Linked DNA regions of Homo sapiens. The protein of the gene in region 3 interacts with the protein of the main gene of each other region in a pairwise test. Each region holds a gene or a part of one and is shown on either strand. Other genes may lie near its edges.

Evidence for each region.
Region 1: the proteins of KLHL12 (region 3) and RIN1 interact in binary tests that used the Homo sapiens proteins (3 or more experiments, as listed by UniProt).
Region 2: the proteins of KLHL12 (region 3) and CCBE1 interact in binary tests that used the Homo sapiens proteins (3 or more experiments, as listed by UniProt).
Region 4: the proteins of KLHL12 (region 3) and POLD1 interact in binary tests that used the Homo sapiens proteins (3 or more experiments, as listed by UniProt).

Annotation. Positions count from the first base shown.
Region 1 is NC_000011.10:66,329,550-66,333,434, reverse strand, and holds the end of RIN1 (ras and Rab interactor 1), read left to right. Parts: intron 1-25; coding exon 26-177; intron 178-682; coding exon 683-1,159; 3' UTR 1,160-3,194; downstream 3,195-3,885. UniProt on the Homo sapiens protein: Ras effector protein, which may serve as an inhibitory modulator of neuronal plasticity in aversive memory formation. Can affect Ras signaling at different levels. First, by competing with RAF1 protein for binding to activated Ras.
Region 2 is NC_000018.10:59,694,302-59,701,343, forward strand, and holds the start of CCBE1 (collagen and calcium-binding EGF domain-containing protein 1 precursor), read right to left. Parts: upstream 3,123-7,042; 5' UTR 3,042-3,122; coding exon 2,911-3,041; intron 2,409-2,910; coding exon 2,328-2,408; intron 1-2,327. UniProt on the Homo sapiens protein: Required for lymphangioblast budding and angiogenic sprouting from venous endothelium during embryogenesis.
Region 3 is NC_000001.11:202,924,188-202,931,424, forward strand, and holds the start of KLHL12 (kelch-like protein 12), read right to left. Parts: upstream 3,048-7,237; 5' UTR 2,902-3,047; intron 1,021-2,901; coding exon of another isoform or gene 976-1,020; coding exon 781-975; intron 1-780. UniProt on the Homo sapiens protein: Substrate-specific adapter of a BCR (BTB-CUL3-RBX1) E3 ubiquitin ligase complex that acts as a negative regulator of Wnt signaling pathway and ER-Golgi transport.
Region 4 is NC_000019.10:50,415,181-50,418,539, reverse strand, and holds the end of POLD1 (DNA polymerase delta catalytic subunit), read right to left. Parts: intron 3,103-3,359; coding exon 2,950-3,102; intron 2,817-2,949; coding exon 2,714-2,816; intron 2,145-2,713; coding exon 2,012-2,144; intron 1,931-2,011; coding exon 1,817-1,930; intron 1,496-1,816; coding exon 1,443-1,495; intron 1,369-1,442; coding exon 1,271-1,368; intron 699-1,270; coding exon 593-698; 3' UTR 526-592; downstream 1-525. UniProt on the Homo sapiens protein: As the catalytic component of the trimeric (Pol-delta3 complex) and tetrameric DNA polymerase delta complexes (Pol-delta4 complex), plays a crucial role in high fidelity genome replication, including in lagging strand synthesis, and repair.

The DNA.
Region 1 (3,885 bases), on a different chromosome or scaffold from region 3:
CGTGTTCTTCCACCCTGTGTCCCAGGTGGCTACTACCTGACCAGCCTCTCTGCCAGCCTGGCCCTGCTGAGTGGCCTGGGTCAGGCCCACACCCTCCCACTGAGCCCCGTGCAGGAGCTACGGCGCTCCCTCAGCCTCTGGGAGCAGCGCCGCCTGCCTGCCACCCACTGCTTCCAGGTAACAGGCCCTCCACCGTGTCCTCAGAGCCAGACGCCATCCCCGCCTTTCACCTTCCTGTCCTTGGTGAAGAGTCCAGACTCTGTAGACAGATCCTGGGTTCTAATCCTGGCTCTGCCACTGGGTTGTGGGGACTTGGGCGAGTTACTTAACTACTTCGTGCCTCAGTTTTCTCATCAGTAAAATGGGGTAATAGGACCTACCTCCTGGGGTTGAGGTGAAGATTAAATGAGTTAATGCAGGAGAGTGCTTGGGGCACAAATTACTCACTATCAAATCTTCATCTCAGGCTTGTGAGCGCCCCACTGGGCTGTCCTTGCACCTGCGGCTGTGGCCCACAAGCCGACCCCTGGAGCACATAGAGCTTTTGCCGCTTGGTTCTCCCACTGGATCTCCACCTACCCACCCTGTCCCTGCACAGCCCAGAAAGCTGATGTCTCAGCTTTGGAGCCAGATGCATGCCAGCCGGGGCTGAGTACTTGTTTTTGCTTCTCCTCCTGCATAGCACCTCCTCCGAGTAGCCTATCAGGATCCCAGCAGTGGCTGCACCTCCAAGACCCTGGCCGTGCCCCCAGAAGCCTCGATTGCCACCCTGAACCAGCTCTGTGCCACCAAGTTCCGAGTGACCCAGCCCAACACTTTTGGCCTCTTCCTGTACAAGGAGCAGGGCTACCACCGCCTGCCCCCTGGGGCCCTGGCCCACAGGCTGCCCACCACTGGCTACCTCGTCTACCGCCGGGCGGAGTGGCCTGAGACCCAGGGGGCTGTGACAGAGGAGGAGGGCAGTGGGCAGTCAGAGGCAAGAAGCAGAGGGGAGGAGCAAGGGTGCCAGGGAGATGGGGATGCTGGGGTCAAAGCCAGCCCCAGGGACATTCGGGAACAGTCTGAGACAACTGCTGAAGGGGGCCAGGGTCAAGCCCAGGAAGGCCCTGCTCAGCCAGGGGAACCAGAGGCAGAGGGAAGCCGGGCAGCAGAGGAGTAGCTTGAAGTGGCCAGAAGGGTCATTCGGGGCGGGAGACCCTGAGCCTGCTGAGAAATCCTTTTAGCGCCAGCAAGCCCCACCCAGGGCCCTGTCCTGTGTCTGCCACCACCTTTGTCTGATACTTGTTTCCAGGGAAGCTGGGGGAACTGCCACATCTGAGGAACTGGAATAAAGATGAGGGGGCTTCGGGGGCCCCCAGACTGTGTGCCCAAGGCCCCTTGCCTCTTGTTCTTCTCCCCCAGCTGAGGGTGAGCCAGCCTGCAATGAGGGTGTGCCAAGTGGGGGCGAATCCGACAGATGCCCAACCTCTGACGTGGGGAGGGTGACGGTCTCAGCTCCTTTTACCCTTCCCCTCATGGGCATGGCTGAGGCAGGGCTCCACCCAAGTATCTCCCACCAGGCTGGGACTTCCAGACCCTAAAAGGTTCCAATGGCTCTTAGGTGTCAGGAGGATTTAGAGAGGCCACAGAACAGCAGCAAAGGCTTGGGGCCCACCCCTGTCCTGGACACCAGAAGGACCTGCACCTGCAAGCCTCAGTACTCTCATCTGTAAAGTGGGGACACTATTGCTGCCCTGCTCGGCTCCCAGAAGTGTCCCAGTGATCAAAATGGGTGATTTTGCTACAAGCAGAGCTCATGGCAGAAAGGGAGGGAGAGAGCTGGGCTGCTAACTCTCTCCCGGAGTCCGCTCTCTGCCAGACAGGGCTCCCACCTGCTGATGCCCAGTTCAGGGAGGTTATTCCCCTGGAAATCAGGCCCTGGGGAGAAAGTACCCAAGTTACAGTCTCTCCCCAAGATTTGGAGTCCTCCCAGGCCCTCCAGCATCTCTGGGGAGATCCACCAGCTGGCAGATAAGCTTCCAGAATGGAGAGGGGGCTCAGAAACCATGCTCTCTGCACTAAACTCTTGGCCCTCACAAAAGCTTTACTTGGCCATGACTTGTTGGGCCCACTGAGGGTCAGGAAAGTGACTCCCAGGATGTCATATAGCAAGTCCTTAAGGGTTCCCCCGCCCAAACCAGGGCATCAGGTTCCAACTCCACCCTCCATTCTAAGCCACCCACAAAGGCCGGGGCAGCCCCCAAGGAAGCCCAGAGCAGGCAGCAAATCCAAACAAGGAAAAGTGCCGACCACCAACCACGAGGGGGTGTGCACGGCCCGGGAATCTGCCGAGAGGGTGACCACCCAGGGGTGAGGGCGCCTCCAAGGCTGCAGCAGCAGAGGGGGTCCCGGGCCTTGCAGTCCAGCAGCATCAGGCAACCTGGGGACAGCGCAGGGGCCAAGGCCACTGGCCCCCAGGTCCCTTAGATTCTGGGGTCTGGGTAAGGCCAGCCTCTTGGGGGCCATCCCCAGGAAGGAAGGAATTGTCCCCTTATGGAGGATGACCCCAGAGGCTCTCTCCTCGGGCACTGAGCACAGAGGGGACGTCAGCCCAAATGTCAGACATGACAACTGGGAGGTAGAAATCGTGGACATTGGCTTTTTGGGTTTTTTTGTTTGTTTGTTTGTTTGAGATGGAGTTTTGCTCTGTCGCTCTGGCTAAAGTGCAGTGGTGCCATCTCGGCTCACAGCAACCTTCGCCTCCCAGTTCAAGTGATTCTCCTGCCTCAGCCTCCCGAGTAGCTGGGACTACAGGTGTGCACCACCACACCTGGCTAATTTTTGTGTTACTAGTAGAGACGGGGTTTCCCCATGTTGGCCAGGCTGGTCTCAAACTCCCGACCTCAGGTGATCCGCCCGCCTTGGCCTCCCAAAGTACTGGGATTACAGGCGTGAGCTACCACACCCAGCCAGACATTGACTTTCAGATGAGCAGTCCAGATACAGCCCAGTTGCACGGCTCCCATTTTTTTTGTCACTAGGCCACCAGCAGCTCTTCCCTCCCCACTTCCACGCCCTCCCAAGGTTCTCGCTGATAGGAAGTGTCCCGTTGGCTCTTCTATTCCCCTCCCTGTTTCACCACTCACCCCTAGTGCCTCACACAGTCCAATGCTGAGCACAAATGCCATAGGTGTTCAATAAATGTTGTTCACTGATTGGAGTTTGATAACCAGGAGTGAGGGACAGTGAGGCAGAAACCTGGGGAGTATAAGGGAGGACTCGGTTCTGGGAATCAAACACGGGATGTGTCAAGCTCAGTCCCAGAGGAAGGACCTGGAATGTTTGTAGAGGGTGCTCGGAGGATCCCAGGGGCCGGATGTACAACTGGCCTCATGGGAATGAGGCTCTGGGGCCTCTACAAGCCCTTCCCACCCTTGCCAGGCTCAGCATGACCTGACCCCCTCCCTGCCCTCCCCAGTGATGGGGCACCACAGGGAGCTGCTGCCTGGGTCTTGTGGTTTTTCTTCTCAAGAAACTCTGGGCTGGGCCTGGTGGCTCACGCCTGTAATCCCAACACTTTGGGAGGCCGAGGCCGGTGGATCACCTGAGGTCAGGAGTTCAAGACCAGCCTGGCCAGCATGGTGAAACCCCGTCTCTACTAAAAATACAAAAATTAGCCAGGCGTCGTGGCACACACCTGTAGTCCCAGCTACTGGGGAGGCTGAGGCAAGAGAATCACTTGAACCCGGGAGGCAGAGGTTGCAGTGACCCGAGATCACACCACTGCACTCCACCCTGGGCAACAGAGCAAGACTCCATCTCAAAAAAAAAAAAGAAATGAAAAGAAAACAAAAAAGAAACTGATTGGTCAGGGGTCCAGGCCAAATCAGCATCAACAAGATTATG
Region 2 (7,042 bases), on a different chromosome or scaffold from region 3:
TCCATCATCAGTAATGCTGTATTACTTACAGCTCAATTCAAAGTAACCTTTAAAGACTGGCTTCCTGGAATGCTGGTTCTTTATCTCACTTTAGTTTAACCTTTAGTTTAGTGAGGTAGGAGAGCTAACTGTTTGGTCAACTGAAAGGCCTCCATGCTCCTTTAAGGATCTGTCTAAATAGGTCTGCATGCGTCCTGGGGATGAGGACACTGGTTTCTTACAGCAGTGCTTCAAGATTTTATGCATCTCTCATTAAGACAGATTCTGATTTAAGAGATCTGGGGGCAGAGGCCCAGGATTCCAACAAGCTCCCAAAATCATGCTGTGCGGCTGGTTTCCAGATGATACTTGAGGTAGTGAGGGTATAAAGGGCTAGGACAATCAAGTCACAAACTAAGGAAAATAATATCCTCTATTCTTGGGATTCAAGAAGAGTAGATTATAGAAACAGGATAAGACCAACGGAATACAGAGAACTCTCGACTTCCATAGAGAAAATAGATCTAAAAACAAAATCTAAGATCTTTTCATATACACAAGGATCAACACCACTTTCAAGCTGAAAGCATCGTTTCCCATTCCTTTAAACAAAGTTCTTTATTCTCCTTGATATAAAATGTCATTTTTGCGAGATCTCATAGCAATTTGAGTAGCTATTAGTGAAAACACATGCCAAGGTGCTGCTAGTGTCTCCTGTTCAAAGAGTATAAAAGAAACACCACACTGCTTTAAGAAGTCTGGAAAAGATGACAGTAATGGCATTAACAAACAATCAGGCACCAAATGGTTTCTGAAAATCTAACATGCATTCTGTAACTGTCACTGATTTATGTGAAGTCCGACCTTCAGGGACTGAAAAAATGAGCAAACCATCTCAGAGACATTTCCCATGTTAAATTCGAGGCTTTATACTGTGCTGATAGGAAAACAATGTGTCCTAAGAAACACTGTGGTCGTGTGGATGAAAGACACGGCTGGAACCAGGCAAGCAATCCTGCTGCCAGCACCACCAGGTCACTTCACCAGCTCGGTGACCTTGCTCACCCAGTTAGCCTCTTTAAGTCTTAACCTGCCAATTGAACATACTCCTTTCTCCTCTACTACCTCTCTCATTTTGTTCAGCATTCACCCCCCGCACACGCCAAGAGAAAGGAGCCTTTCCTAAGCCCAAGGAGTGACTTGATTTGCCTGATTATTGTCCCTTCACTGCCAACAACAGATTTAAGAGCAGAAGTACGCGATGTAACTGATGGTGCTTTTGCACCCATAAACTGACAGCCGTGGAACCACTTGGTCTGAACCTTTGGGTATATGAAATGCTCTCACCTGCAAGAAACGCTATGATTGATTCACAGGCTACAACCTTATAAGGAATAAAACATTGTTTTCTTTCAAGTTCGTTTCTAGGGACTGCTGCGTTACCTTGTACTACTCAGTATTTATCCTGGCAACCCGAACAGAGCATGTGAGTCTCCAGAGACAGTCAGGTGTGGGCATATGATCACATTACCTTGTACAGCGCCTCTAAAACGCAGATATCCAATAAACGTTTATGGGTGCATGTTCCCCTATCCAGTGAGAGCACTGGAACAGAACCAAGAATTCAATGGTGAAAAACCTAAATCAACCCTCATCTCCAAAAGGCTGCAAGCAGAACAGTGGTTCTCTCCTTTCAGAGACAAGAACCACCTGGGGAACATTTTATAACTACCGATTCCCTAGCCCCATCCACGCTTAGTTTTAACAAGCACCCGGGTCACTCATTTAACAAATACCCAGGTGAATCTGTGGCCCACATTTTTAGAAAGACTTTTTTCCTCTGCCCCAACAATCTTTTTGTTTTCACTCAACACAACCACTCACAATCCTCCCCCTACTTTTTTGTCCAGAGGCCGTGACAGCCACACTCTGCCCCAACAGAAGGTCAGAAGACAGACAAGTGCCAAGAATTGCCTTGTTGACGCTGTACTTTCAAAACAAAACACAAATACGAAAGCAGCCACCCGTGTTTGCTATGCCCCACTGTTTACACCCAAAATCCAATCCAATCTCCTTCACAGACTTCCACACAAGTATTTCAGGGAGCGGCAACCATCCTCAGGATCTCAGGGCACACACCCTAGACGCAAAGTCAGTTGCTCAGTGTTGCTCTGACTCCGATCCAACCAACCCTCAAAGATTCGCACCGCGCGGCACGCACCCAGCAGGTTCCAGCGTAAAAGCTGCTCCGGTCCCAAGCGCGTCTCCAAACCCCTCCTTTACAGCGCCGCCTCCCCAGCCAGCCCCGGTGCGCAGTGGCGAACAGCCCGCAGAGCCCCCAGGCTTACCTGTAGCATGTGGTGAGCTCGCCTGAAGACTTCAGACACGGGTATTTAGTCGTCGCGATTTTGCTCTCTGAGCAGATTTCTCTATGAAAAAGTGCAGAGGAAATGTTCGATTCTCAGCGGGAGAGCGGAGGCGGGCAGCGCGCGCTGGGGAATCCCTGGCGCGTGGGGATCGCCAGGCTCCCCGTCCCGGCGCTCTGGGCAGGGGCTGGTCCCCAAACGCGTACGCGGGGCAGACTCCGGCCACAGGGACGAGCCACGCGAGGGTCACGACGAAGCGAACCAGCTCCAGGAGAAAGGAAGCGGGGTTCACGAGCTGTGCCAGCCAGTGTGGCACCCGGGGGGAGGCAGGAACGCGGGGCGAAGGGTATCCCTGACGCGACCCACGGATGGCAGGGCGCAAAGGCTGATACCCGGGAGCGGAGGGAAGTGTCGCCCAGGACAGCTGAGCACTCTCCTTATCCCCGGAGAAGTGAGGGCGTGCGGATCGCTGTGGGAGTGGGCGCCGGGGAGGACCGCCCGCACCCCGCGAGCCGGGCGCGCATCAAGCAGGAGCTCGCCCTCCGCTGGGGCTTGCAGCGCTTACCTGTCGCCGTCCTCCGGCTCCTCTCTGTAGGTCCACGTGTGTCCCAACGCCAGGAGCAGCAGCAGCGGACCCAGGCTCCTGCCCAGCTGGCCCCTGGCAGCTCCTCCCCGGCTCGGAGGCGGCGGCACCATCAGGGAAGCTCCCGGCTTCTTCCCAGCGCCGAGCTCCGTCCGGACCAAGCGTCCTGCTCCTCCGCGGCCGCCGCCGCCTTCCCTCTTCCCGGCAGGGGGCGCCGGAGAGCAGGGGCGTTTGCACCACCTGCACGGGGAGCAGGGGTCCGGAATATTATGGGGCTGGGGGGAAAATGAGGCTAGGAGTTGGGGTATCGGATGCAAACCCAGCAGAGAAGCAGGTAAAGGGGGTACCTGCGGTGTCCGGCTGGCGCGAGGGCCCTGAGGTTCAAGTTGTCTCGTCGGGACGTTCACGTCCGATTGACAGACTTGCTGGACTCGGCTTGGGGCTGCGCCCTCGCCTCTTCCCTCTCCCTCCTCTGGGAGAAGCGCGCAGGGTGGGGAAAGCGGGCGGTTGTTTGCATTTTGCACCAGGGTCTCACGACCGGGAGGAGGAGGAGCTGATTCTCCACCGGGGAGAAGAGGGAGGGGGAAGAGAGGGGTTAATAAGCTTCCTTCCTGTTGTCCATGGGTTTCTAAAGCCCAGGGTCAGGCCAGTGTTCGTCTTTCCTCCGTGAGGACCTACCCTGAGATTTGCAACTATCTTAGTCTTCTTTTCTCTTAGATTATGTGAGGAAGGAGGAGTTGAAAGGCTACAACGGGCCTCTCAAATTGTTCAAACCTGAAATAGCGCTATTTATATAGTGTAATCACTCTTCCTTAAAACCTTTAGAAGAAAGTTCTCTGGTTGTTTCATTGGTCAATAAACCATGCGCTGTCTTCTTCATAACTCGAGTTCGGAACAAGTAAGGAGGTCTTTCTGGGAGCCTTACATCTCCTTGTCCTGAGCGGCTTTAATACTGTTTCCACGCCGCGCACATCAGAGCTGGAAACGCCCCCCCCCATCAAATGAGACACGTGGGGGCAAATTAATTACAGGTGCTGCTACCTGCTAGTGTATGCAGCCGCGTTGATAGGTAACAAGAAAACGGAGGAGGGGGGCCGTAAATCGGCTCCCTTGACGGTGACCCTAATTGTAATTCGTGTGTCAGCAACTTAACACTTTGTTGCGCTTTAGGAGTTTTCTCAGCCTTTTCCAGAGAAACTGGGGACGTGGATGTGGCCCAGAAATAAGTTGAAAAAGGAAAAGTTCTAATGCCTAAGCTCTAAAATATGCGTGGTTCTGCATCTCACAGGACAACGAGGTAAAAAGGTGGCTTGTTCACAAGTGACCGGTGTGTAAATTGGTTAGGTAAGCACATATTTTGATATACAGAATATGCTGGTCAACTGAGAATTACCACACATATCACATACACATTGACTTTTTTTTTTTTTTGAGACGGAGTCTCACTCTGTCGCCCAGGCTGGAGTGCAGTGTCTCGATCTTGGCTCACTGCAACCTCCGCCTGCCGGGTTCAAGAGATTCTTCTGCCTCAGCACCCCAAGTAGCAGGGATTACAGATGCATGCTTCCACACCCGGCTAATTTTTGTATTTTTAGTAGAGACAGAGTTTCACCATGTTGGCCAGGCTGCTCTTAAACTCCTGGCCTCAAGTGATCTGCCCAACTCGGCCTCCCAAAGTGCTGGGATTACAGGCGTGAGCCATAGCAGCCAGCCCACACTGATATTTTTGATAGCAATGACATTGTCATTCTTCCGTAGAATGCTATGTCTTTTCCTAAGATTTTTCATATTCAAGATTTTATTTGGTTCCCACAATATCCCTTCAATCTGAGCATCTGATTTCTTAGTTCTGTGAGGTGTGTTTTTTGTTGGCTTATTTTACAAAACTTACATATTCGGAAGACCACCCACTTGATATTAAAATATGACACTGCTACTTAACACAAATGAGTTAATTTTTATTTGATAATTCAGAAGACATTTCAGGATGTTGCAAAACTGGAGAGTGATCATCATGAGGTCAGAAAAAAAAAACCATGAGGTCAGAAAAAACTGGATTCAAACTCAGGCTGTTTGGTTTCCTGGAGGAGTGATCTGAAGCAATTTACTTCTGACACTCTGTTTTCTCATCTGTAAAATGGGGAAATATCTCTCATCAATTTTTATGAGTATTAAATGAAGCAATGCTTCTATAGCATTTTGTTTATCATGCCTGGCATATGTTGAGTGCCCTGTAAACATTATTACTTGTAACGTAATTATTGTATTGCACAGAACTTTAAGTTTTTGCCTTCTAGCCTTCTAGCTTTTCACTTCCTAGATATATAGGAATCCACTTTATAACAGTTGTTTGGGTTCCTAAAGACAGACCTCACTAAGCACATGAGGAAGAAACCCCTTCTGGGGCTTATGATAATTGTATCTCTTCAGATTGTGACAAAAAAGTGTTTGATATCCATCTTGGAAGGGAGAGGCCATCTTGTAATCTGGTAGGAGGTTCTATTTTTAATTCCTTACCAATTACTGTATCTTGACAACTTGCTGTCTTTTTTCTCATCTTTACGCATTTTATTCTTCTACTGTTGCATTGTGGACGTTAGTTCTACAAGTAACAGAGCGTGGTATAGGAGATTAATTATCAGTTTCATTAAATAGTTACTAGGCCACAAGTGCAGACCTGCAGCATTTCAGGGAAAGTGATTCAGGCTGCAAAATGATAACAGCAAAACCATTATACACAGCTGTGTGGCAGAAGATTGGCATCAGAGCTGACTTTGCCACCTTTTTATTTTCAGCTCCTGGTGCTGAGTGCCTATGAGAATAAGGGGTTAGAGAAGTTGCTGGGGCCCAGCAAACAGCTCAGGTTTGCACAGGGAGGAAATCCCAACGGTGGGTGGTCAGAGCATTTCATACATTTCTGTAAGAGGTGATCTGGAGCCGAAACCTTCTGAAAAACCTTTGCCTAGAGGCCTGTAATTTCAACCTACTGCCAGCTACTGACAGCATGGGGTGCAGTGAGGAGTTGCTTGTCCGGGGAGCACTGCCAAGCCGGAAAGAGCTATGGATGGCCATATATGGATACCTGCCCCCAAAAAGCTAAATACTCCTGTAAAAGACAAAATCTGCATTGCCCAGGCTGCGGGCTGCATGGGAGATGTCAGTGCTGGGGCTGACTGGTGGGAGCCTCAAGGGTGCTGAGTTTTCTTTCCTCCCTTCTAGACCATGTGCAAGCCCAGGCCTGCCCTGTCCCCTCACCTATGAAACACTGGCCTGAGAGAACATGCCATCCACCTCTTTCATAGGAGTGTTACAAAGATTAATGATAGGGCCCTAAATGCTCCTTGGGGGAGGCCGTGTGTGATTATGTGATTATTTCTTTTCAGCATACCACTCTCTGCAAAGTTTTTCATAAAGATCTGTCAGTTTCCCTGAAACAAACCAGAGAGCAGATAGTTATACAATTTACTGTGTCCTGGGGATGTGGGGCTGTGTCTGGGGCTTTCTAGTGCATACTATGTTATAGGTTAGAATCCCTGGTAGACCAGGTATTGTTAAGTAGTACTGCTGCATGTTGCCTGGGGGTGGGGTGACTGGCTGGAGAATAGAGAGACGGCTGCGTACAAAAGTAAAGTGAAAGGAAAAAAGAAAAGTAAACACCAGGACACAGGGCAGAGAATATGCTTCTAAATAAAATCAGTTGTCTCTTCTCAGTTTTAAGGGACTCCAACATCTTATTTGAAGAAAATCAGAATATAAAGAACAGACCACCACCAACTGGGACAATTCATTTCACCATTTAAAGATTTTCCTATAAAAAGGATTTGTGGTGGCTGACAAAAAATAAACTATTGTGTGTGTGTGTGTGTGTGTGTGTACATATGTACACAAAGTGTATGTAGTATAGGGCAAAATTAGACAAAGAAATTAAGGCAAAGGAAAAATCAGGATCAAACAGTAAAATAAAGCTGATGTTATGTTAATTGGCAGGGCTGTATAAGCAGAAAGTCCTGGGCCACGTTTCAAGCAGATCACAAGTCGGTTCTCAAATTCTCAGAAGTCAACTCAGGATAATTACATGATCAGTCATGAGATTCAAGGTAACCATAAAAGAAAA
Region 3 (7,237 bases):
TGTGAGCACTACCTGTATTCTCTCAAGCCAACCTTTTCCTAATTCCCTTTGTTAAGTGCTTATGAGTTAACATCCTTTCTCAGGTTATACACTCAACGCCTGTACAGCTATTCATTAAAAACTCTTCTTCCTTTCATTTGAAGTTATCCTAAAATTTACACTGATTTTCTTCACATATTGTTAGGAGGAGTGGGATGTGGTTTGAATCCTACTCCTCTCTCCTTCCTTCCTCCTTATCCCTCTGGTATTCACTTAAAAATTTTTAAACTTTAGAAGGAAAAAAGGCTGGATGCCGTGGCTCACACCTGTAATGCCAGGTGTGGCCACTCTGGGAGGCCAAGGCAGGAGGATTGCTTGAGCCCAGGAGTTCAAGACCAGCGTGGGCAACATAGTGAGACCCTGTCTCTACAAATAAATAAATAAAATTAAAAACAAAAAAAGGAGAAAAATTGGAAGACAAATTTAAGAAATAGTAAAATCCAATAGCTGACATGTGTGTTTTACTACATATTACACTATTCTAAGCACTTCCTATGTTATTTCATAAAATAATCTTCACAACAACCTTAATAACCATGTGTTACATATTACTATTATCCCTAACTTAAAGATGAGGAAACTAAGGCATAGTCATCTAAGTGGTAGATCTTATCCAGAATCTGCCAAAACATCACACTGTAAAAATTCAAAATTATATCAAACTTCCACTATTTTATTCAGTGAAATTAGACAACTAGAGTTCCACGGGTTTCATTTGTGTGGGGCTAATTTACCACTTACCTCACTAGTGAACATGGCACAGAAGTAATCACTACAGGCAGCCAGCACAATCCGATGGGCAGGGAAGTCTTTCTGCTCTACTCTCAATGTCACATCACAGAGGGTATTGCTCTTCCTGAGGGAGTTCATTGAATTGAGGATGGATTTAGCATGAGTATTTGTCATTATGTCTTTGGGGGCCATAATGCCTCCCATAAAGCAGTGCGGAGAAAGAACAAAATGGGTCCTTGGATTCTGCAACTACAAGAGGGAAAAAAAAACAATGAGCATATTCAAAGAACTAGGGCAACTGAACATATTTAATTAGCTTTACAAATTAAGAACCTAAGAGGCTTCCTCAGACCCAAACATACACAAGTTGAGGGCACTCCTATGCCTGGCATCACCACCAACCACTAGCCACTATCTAGTCCATGTAAAAGCTCTCTCTTCTTCCTCTGAATTCCTCTATCACGGAGTGTCCCTACCACTTGACATTTAATATGATCAATGCTGAAATGTAAGTAGAGATAAACAATATATGTCTTGTAAATCTTGACAAGGTTCTTGTCTCAAATGATAAACCGAAAATATAAAATTTCTTAAAGGTGTTATATTATTACTATTTAATGTCCTTAAGTAGATAAGTATTTAGAGCATACATAAAAAGAGGATCCTGCTTTATATGTATGCTTTCTATCCTAGAAGTTGCACAATAAATGTTTAGAATTTAATGTAAGAAAAAGTGTGTATTCAACTTCAACTTAGAGCAAGAAAGGCCACTCAGTAAAAATAAACTTTTTTCTAAAGAAGTATCCAAATGATATGTCTGATGACTTCCAAACATATCTGGATTTCTTCTTAAAATGAAACTTCAGGCCGGGCCCAACAGCTCACTCCTGTAATCCCAGCACTTTAGGAGGCTGAGGTGGGTGATCAGTTGAGGTCAGGAGTTTGAGAGCAGCCTGGCCAACATGGTGAAACCTAGTCTCTACTAAAAATACAAAAAATAGCCAGGCGTGGTGATGCGCGCCTATAATCCTAGCTACCAAGAAGGCTGAGGCCCGAGAATCACTTGAACCCAGGAGGTGGAGGTTGCAGTGAGCCGAGATCACACCACTGCACTCCAGCCTGGGCAACAGAGCGAGACTCTGTCTCAAAAAAAAAAAAAAAAAAAGAAACTTCAATTGAGGACCCATTACCTACACTGAATAATGGAAACCACGCAAGTTATCGATGGACTTACACTTGCTTAAGATATTGAAGCTCTTCAACAAGAGGGTATTCCTACTCTACATCTGTGAATGTCCATTACTGTTAAAGAATCGATATTGGAATCCAAAACTTTCTGAAATGATCCGGGGGGAAGGAAATCAAACTGTGGTCTCCAAAAGTCCACAAGTCACAATTAATCTTTCAACAGGAAAAATGAGATCCTAAATTCTCATCTACTTCTGTTTGTAGTTGGCATTTTACTCTATAAGCACTATAGATAATTCCTCCAACAACTCTGCAAGACCCATTTTACAGAAAAGCGGGTGATTCATCAAAGCATATGTTTTTCAAAAAGACTTAAGTCAACTTAGTTGCAACTCTAGGGGTGTAAAAAGGTCTAGAACAAATGTCCATTTACTATGAAGACAGCCCGGGGGGTCTTTTATCGTTTCCGTGTCAAAATGACAGTACCCCGGTGCAGAGTGGTCTTCCTTCTAGGGGATTCCTGCCTCAACACTCCAAGTCTCAGCATATCCTTCATCCTCACCCTTCTGAAGTGACCTATTTTCTAGAACTTTCGTTAACATCTGAATGGAGGGATTCCACTTCGGGAGATTCGGGGCAGGGAATGGGTAGTAAACTCGGGAAAGACTAAATTCTAGAGAAGGAAACGAAGTCCTTCCTCCTAATACCACCAGGCATATGGCCGCCACCGCCAGGTGGAGGTATCGGAGAGGGGCAGTTCAGGGGGAGAGTTGAGAGGGTGACCGAGGCCAGATGCCCCACCCCACTGCCAGCCTTCCTCCTCTGTTGGGCATGTCTCCCATTCCGCCTTGCAGGGAGACCAAGGATGGGGGGTAGGGCCATAACCCGGAGTTGACGGACAGGAAGGGAAGGGCTGACTGCCATCACTTCCGCGCAACTCACCTCCGCTCCCGAACCCACACAGCCGCACCGGGCCCGTCCCCAGCCTGTGGGGATGGAGTGCGGCGCGGGGCTAGCAGGCGGCTCGGGAGGAGCCGAAGCGCCGCCCAGACCCGGAGGCTCTGGAGGCTCTGGAGCCGTCCGGGTCTGGCCCCTGCGGCCGCGCGACGTGATGACGCAATGCAGCTGGAGCACCGCCCTCCCCCCGCTCCAGAGTCTGCGTCACGTGAGGAGGTGGTGTCACGTGACCTGTCTGTACCCTAGCGCGGGGCTTCTGTACGCTGCTAGGAAGCCGAATTACAAAAAGGTCGGGTGGGCAGGGAATGGTGGCTCACGCCTATAATCCCGGCACTTTGGCAGGCCGAGGCGAGCGAATTACCTGAGCTCCGGAGTTCCAGACCCGCCTGGGGATCACGGCAAAACCCCGTTTCTACAAAAAAAAAAAAAAAAAAAAAATTAGCCCGCACCGCGCCTGTAGTCCCAGCTACTCGAGAGGCTGACAGGAGGATCACTTGAGCCAGGCAGCAGAGGTTGCAGTGAGCCAGGATCGCCACTGCACTCCAGCCTGGGCCACAGAATGAGACCCTGTAAAAAAAAAAAAAAAAAAAAAATGTCCAGGCGTGGTGGCTCACGCCTGTAATCCCGGCACTTTGGGAGGCCGAGGCGGGTGTATTACTTGAGGTCAGGAGTTCGAGACCAGCCTGGCCAACATGGTGAAACCCTATCTCTACTGAAAATACAAAAAAATTAGCCGGGCGTTGTGGCACGCGCCTGTAATCCCAACTACTCAGGAGGCTAATGCAGGAGAATCGCTAGAACCTGGGAGGCGGAGGTTGCTGAGCCGAGATCGCGCCATTGCACTCCGGGCTGGGCGACCGACTGAGACTCTGTCTCTTAAAAAAAAAAAAAAAAGGCCAGGCGAGGTGGCTCACGCCTGTAATCCCAGCACTTTGGGAGGCCGAGACGGGTGGATCACGAGGTCAGGAGATCGATTCTGGCTAACACGGTGAAACCCCGTCTCCACTAAAAATACAAAAAAATTGGCTGGGCGTAGTGGCGGGCGCCAGTAGTCCCAGCTACTCGGGAAGCTGAGGCAGGAGAATGGCGTGAACCCGGGAGGCGGAGGTTGCAGTGAGCTGAGATCGCGCCACTGTACTCCAGCCTGGGCGACAGAGCAAGACTCCGTCTCAAAAAAAAAAAAAAGAAAAAAGAAAAAAAAGAAAAAACAAAAAAAAGGCTGGATGTTGTGGGGTCCGGCAGGGAGCCTGGGAATGTATCTACAGCTCGGCGATTGGCTGAGCCTGAGTTCCTCCCTACCGCTCACTAGGCAGGGCAGGCAGAGAGAATTCCAACGCTTAATATGCCAAGCATCTGATTGCAGCAAGTATGTTTTACCTTCCAGGTACTGAGGAACTTTTTGACATCGAGAAAACCCACAGAGGCCTCAAATTTATTCACGTCCATTGTCCACAATGGCCTTTTCGGGCCGAACAACGCTGCGGCGAGAATCCTCTGAGCCTTAGGATCCACAGACCTCAGTATATACTCTGCATCATAATGGGCCCTGTCATCACCACTGAATTGATTCTAAGGAAATTCTAATTGATTCAGGAAATTCTAATTTATTTTGGTGCACTTAGTGACTGAAAAGGCAAAAAGCTTAATTAGTTCAGCTTATCTGAATGTCTAGACAAATTGTGTTTGGTAATACTATTATGCTCTGTGAGCCCTTTGATTCTTTTTTTTTTTTTTTTTTTTTTTTGAGACGGACTCTTGCTCTGTCGCCGAGGCTCGAGTGCACTGGCGCGATCTCAGCTCACTGCAACCTCCGCCTCCCGGGTTCAAGCAATTCTCCTGCCTCAGCCTCTCCGAGTAGCTGGGAGTACAGGTGCACACCACCACGCCCGACTAATTTTTGTGTTTTTAATAGAGACGGTGTTTCGCCATCTTGGCCGGGCTGGTCTCGAATTCCTGACCTCGTGATCCGCCCGCCTTGGCCTCCTAAAGTGCTGGGATTACAGGCGTCAGCCACAGCGCCTAGCCCTTTGATTCTTAAGGGTACTAAAACCATAGCCAAGTGGGTAGCATTCTAAATTTACAACGTGTCCCCATCTTCCATGTCATACCTTCCTGATCTAAAACTGTCCCTGACTCACACATTGTAGAGAAGAATGCAAGATTGGTATATTATTGGGGGCATTTTGGAAATATTCGTCGATTTTAATAAAATTTTCCTTCACATATACTCGTGCACATGTAAAACGATGTATGTACAAGATTGTTAACTGCAGCATTGTTTGTAGATTAGATCAACAACAACATTAAATGTCCATTAATAGGGGACTGATTCAATAAGGTATAGTACATCCATAAAATCCAATACCATGAAGCTGTGAACAATTTATATACTCTATTATTGGTGTAAAAAGGTGGAAGATATATTCATATTTGCTTGTGTATGTGTAACATGTATTTGAAAAGACAAAGTGGTAACCTTGGTTTCTTTGGGGAAAGGAACTGTTTGGTTGTGAGACAGGGTGGGAAGGAGATTTTTGCTCTTTGTAATTTATTTTGCCTTTTGAATTTTGCTTCATATGAATTAAAAATAATGTTCAGAGCCTGGTGCGGTGGTGTACACCTACCTGTTGTCCTATCTGCTTTGGAGACTGAAGCAGGAAGATTGCTTGAGCCCCGAAGTTCGTGACCAGCCTGGGCAACGTAGCAAGAGCACGCCTCAAAATATATTTATATGTTCAATTTTTTAAAAAGTAAAAATAGGCTGGGCACAGTGGCTCACGCCTGTAATCCTAACACTTCGAGAGGCCGAGGCGGGCGGATCACCTGAGGTCAGGAGTTCCAGACTGGCCTGGCCAACGTGGCAAAACCCCGTCACTACTAAAAATAAAAAAATTAGCCAGTCATGGTGGCCTGCGCCTGAAATCCCAGCTACTCAGGAGGCTGAGGCCGGAGAATCGCTTGAACCCAGGGAGCAGAGGTTGCAGTGAGCTGAGATCACGCCACTGCACTCCAGCCTGGGCAACAGAGCAAGGCTCCATCTCAAATAAATAAATAAATTAATTAAATTAAATAAAAAGTAAAAATAATTCCTTGTTTTCAGGATGTAAAATAGTACTTTAATGATATTGCCTAATTCCTGACTGTTAAATTAAGGATTTTTCCAAATATGAGAAGGAACTTAATAATAAAAGAGGCTTTGTTTAGAGTATGCCTACTCCTTTTATTCACAAAATAAAAGATGGAGAAGTTGTTAGCAAGATTATCACACCAAAGGAACTAGTTCAGACTTCTGACTTTTTTCTTCTTTTATTTCCTCTTTTTTGTTAATATTTGTCGGTACATAGTAGGTGTATATATTTAGGGGGTACAGAGGGATTTTGATACAGGCATATAATGTGTACTAATCACATCACAGAAAGTTGGGTATCCATCCCCTCAAGCGTTTATCCTTTGTGTTAAAACAATCCAAGTATACTTTTAGTTATTTTAAAATGTACAATTCAATTATTATTGACTATACTTACCCTGTTCTATCAAATACTAGGTCTTATTCATTCTTTCTAGTTTTTCGGTACCCGTTACCCTCCCCACCTTCCCCCAACCCCCACTGTCCTTCCCAGCCTCTGGTAATCATCCTTCTACTCTCTATCTTTGTGAGTTCAATTGGTTGGTTTTTAGATCCCACAAATCAGTGAGAACATGCGATGCTTGTCTTTCTGTGCCTGGTTTATTTCACTTAACATAATGACCTTCAGTTTGATTCATGTTGCTGCAAATGACAGAATCTCATTATTTTTAATGACTGAATAGTACTCCATCATGAATAAGTACCACATTTTCTTTATCCATTCATCTGTTGATGGACACTTGGGTTGCTTCCAAATCTTAGCTATTGTGAACACTGCTGCAACAAACATGGGAGTGCAGATATCTCTATGATACACTGATTTACTTTCTTTTCTTTTTTTTGAGACAGAGTCTCACTCTGTTGCCCATGCTGGAGTGCAGTGGTGTGATCTCGGCTCACTGTAACCTCCGCCTCCCAGGTTCAAGCAATTTTTCTGCCTCAGCCTCCCAAGTAGCTGGGACTACAGGTGCAGGCCACCATGCCTGGCTAATTTTTGTATTTTTAGTAGAGACAAGGTTTCACATATTGGCCAGGCTGGTCTCAAACTCCTGACCTCATGATCTGCCCACCTCAGCCTCCCAAAGTGCTGGGATTACAGGCATGAGCCACCACACACAGTTGATTTACTTTCTTTTGGGTATATACACAGTAGTTGGATTGCTGGATTGTATGGTAGTTCTAGATTTAGTTTTC
Region 4 (3,359 bases), on a different chromosome or scaffold from region 3:
TGTGTGAGGTGACGGGAGGGCCGAGGGCATCTGACGGCAGTTAGAGGCTGCGGGGATAGAGATGGGAGTCGCTGGGGGGAAACCCAGACCCAAAGCCCATTGCCAGGACCCCGACGTGGAAACATCGTGGGTGTGTGGTCCGGCGGGGGATGGGGGGGTCCCCTTGGCCGGGCTGAGGAGTGGAAGCCCCGGTGCGCCTGGGGCTGCCCCAGGGCCTGGAGGAAACAGGTCAGCACCTGGAGGGCGGGGCAGCCACCAGGGTCCCCAGGGTCATCACCAGGGAGGGCTGGGCCGGGGCCAGACACCTGGGGGCCCTAAGCAGGGCAGAGAAGCGCTGGTATAAGGGTTCCTTCAGGGCCAGAGAGGAAACTGAGGCAGGCTTGGCCCACATGAACCAGGCAGCACAGGTGGGAGTCCGGGGGCTTTTGCTGAGGATGAGGGGCGGTGCGGGCCTCAGGAGGGTCCCAGCCAAGGCCAGGGCTTATGAAACCAGACAGTGTCCCCCAGAGACCACAAAGCACCATATAGCAAAAGTCCAGAACTTTATTAATTCTCCCTGGTCCCGCCCCCGCCCCATGGGATGCTTGCAAGGTCACCAGGCCTCAGGTCCAGGGGGTCCGAAGCGCCGCAGGAGCTGCTCCTGGTCTTCCAGGTCCTTCCGCACCTTCTTGCGCATGTAGAAGATGGGGCAGTCCCGGCTGCGGGTGGGGGCAGGGGCAGGGTCAGGACCAGCCAAGGCCCAGTGCCCAGCCTGGGAGAGGGGTGGGGGCTGTTCCCAGGACTTTGGTCCCCGCCTGCTGCCCAGCCCACCCGCCCCCTCCCGCAGCGGGCTGTTTGCTCAGCAGGCACGGGGGGGGTGGGGGGGGGGAGCCGATAACAGCGGGTGCCTGGCGAGGTGCAGGGCCATGGCTGGCCGTATATCACCTGTCACCTGGCGTGGGAACCCACCCCGCCTACCCGTTCCCTGGGGAAAGCCCGGCCCCGCCCTGGGGAGGGGGCCAGGCTGGCTGGGTGTGTCGGGAGGACAGCCGTTTCCCGGGCAACACTGGGTGCCGGGCGCTGCCTCCCTAAGCACCCACCCCCTCTGGGGGGCTGGGATGGGCCCATTTTTCAGACAAGGACACTGAGGCTCAGGACAGCTCACAGCTGGAAGGGGATGGGCGGGGAGGATGCTCAGGAGAGGCCTTGGAGTCAGAGGTTGGGTCCACAACCCACAGGCCTGGGAGCTGGGAAGGGGCGGGGCAGCCCAGGGTCGGGACATGGCACACACCTGGTGCAGATGACGTCCTCGTGCAGGCTGCCCTGGCAGCGCTGGCACTGCGTCCAGAGGCGCGAGAAGCGCTCCTCCAGGGCATTCAGATGGGATACCTGGGGACGGCAGCGGCTGAGCAGGGCGCCCCCGCCTCCCCACCTGGCCCCTCCTCACCTCCCGGCCCTCTCACCTCCTTCTGATACAGCTCAGACTCCCGGGGCTGGCAGAACTCACACACGGCTCCTGTGGGGAGGCGGGTCAGCCCAAGTGCTGGGGCCCAGCCAGGAACTGGGCCACCCCATCCCTGCCCACTGCCAATCCCAGCTTCTGAAAGTCCCCAGAGGCTGGAGAACAACGGAGCAAGTGTGCTGGGAAAACTCCCCTGGGGAACTCCCGGGGTGGGGGCCGAGGACCCTCTGTGGGGGGTGGAGACAGGGGCCACCCACCCAGGGGCCCTGGGCCCACTGGGTGGCAGTGCCAGCCGATGGGGTGGGTGTCTAGGATCTGGGGTGACGGCAGAGCAGGTTGAGGGCCAGTGGGGGCCCAGTGGCCAGGGCCGCTCACCCTGGTGGCTGAGCACTGTGCGGCAGCCAATGCAGCAGTTGCGGCGTTTGGCGAAGGCCAGGAGGCCGCCCACCTTGCCCGTGAGCACCGTCTTGCAGCGCGTGTGGTCCCCCCCTGCAGGAGAGGAGGCAGGTGGTGGGCCGGTGATCTCCTCTGCCCCCCCAGGGTGCCCCCAGTCCCCTGGTGCCCCCGTACGCAGTAGCACAGCCTCGGCACGGCCCTCGCCCAGGATGGGCTCGAAGATGCGCAGGAGGGGCTTGGCCAGCTGCTGCTCCAGGTAGTACTGCGTGTCAATGGGCAGGCTGTGCTCCAGCACGAACAGCGGGTCCTGCGGCCACATGGCAGTCACACCCGGGCAGCCAGGGAAAGGGCACCGGGGTGGACACGGGGTGGTCATGGGGCCTGGGGCTTAGGGCCTAGGCCTGCCTGCGGGCTGTGACATGGGGGGGGCCTGGGTCTGGGATGGGGTCGGAGGTCACGGAGTCTCTGGGCCACAGAGTCTGTAGGGCTCTCAGGTCACCACGGAAGGGTCAGAGTTCACAAGGGGAAGCAAGGATGAGGAAGGGGTCAGGAGGTCAGAGGTCATGGGGCTAAGATGTGGGTCACTGGGGGTGGGGGTAGAGCTGGAGGATTATGAATCCAAGGGAACCCCCGGCTGGGGAGCTGTATGCACAGGGGAGGGACTGGGGCCCCTTCCATAGGGAAGCAAGGGAGGGGTCAGAATAGAGGGGGGACCTCCAGAGGGGGCCGAGGCCACACCCAGGCTGCCATGGGGGGCGGTTCTCAGGGCCCCACAGGGCACGGGAGGCCCCACCCTTCCCGCAGGCCCGCCCATCTCGGAAAGCAGAAGTGAGAGCGAGGGGGCTGGGCGGGAGCAGGCAGCCAGGTGGGCCTGACCTCCGACTTCATGTAGGCGGCCACACCCTTGGCGGCACTGATGATCACGTAGGGGACGCGGTCGCCCAGGCTGGGCGCACTCCCGGGGTCCCGCTTCCTCATCCTGCGTGGAGATGGGGTGGCGGGTGGGTGAGGGCAGGTGGGTGGCGGGGGTGGGGGCGAGGGTGTAGGAAGTGGGCCCAGCTGGCAGGAAGGAGGGGGTTATTTCTGGCCAGGCCACCCGCCCCGCGCAGGACCTCTCGGCCAGCTCCACGTGGGCCTGCTTGCCGGCATAGTCGGAGGCCGCGCGGGTCAGCTCCTTGGTGATGACCAGCTGGGAGATATCGATGCGGTTGCACAGCAGGTCCGAGATGACGTCCTGTGCGTGAGCCACCGCGCCCTCAGGGTCTCTGTAGGAGAGCGGGCCGCACAGCGTCACCAAAAGGCACTGAGGGCCAGGCTGGTGCCTCCACGGGTCTCAGGGCTGGAGACCAGGATGAGCTCTTAGGGCTGAGGCTCAGGGCAGAGAGGGGCCCTTCCTACCATAGGCTGCAGAGTGGCAGAGGCAGGGCCTGAACCCACAGCTGCCCAAGCCGACTCTTTCCACTGCTTCACCACCGAGGAAGAGCTGGGCCTGACACCTGTGTTCCCAGAGGAGGAGGGGCTG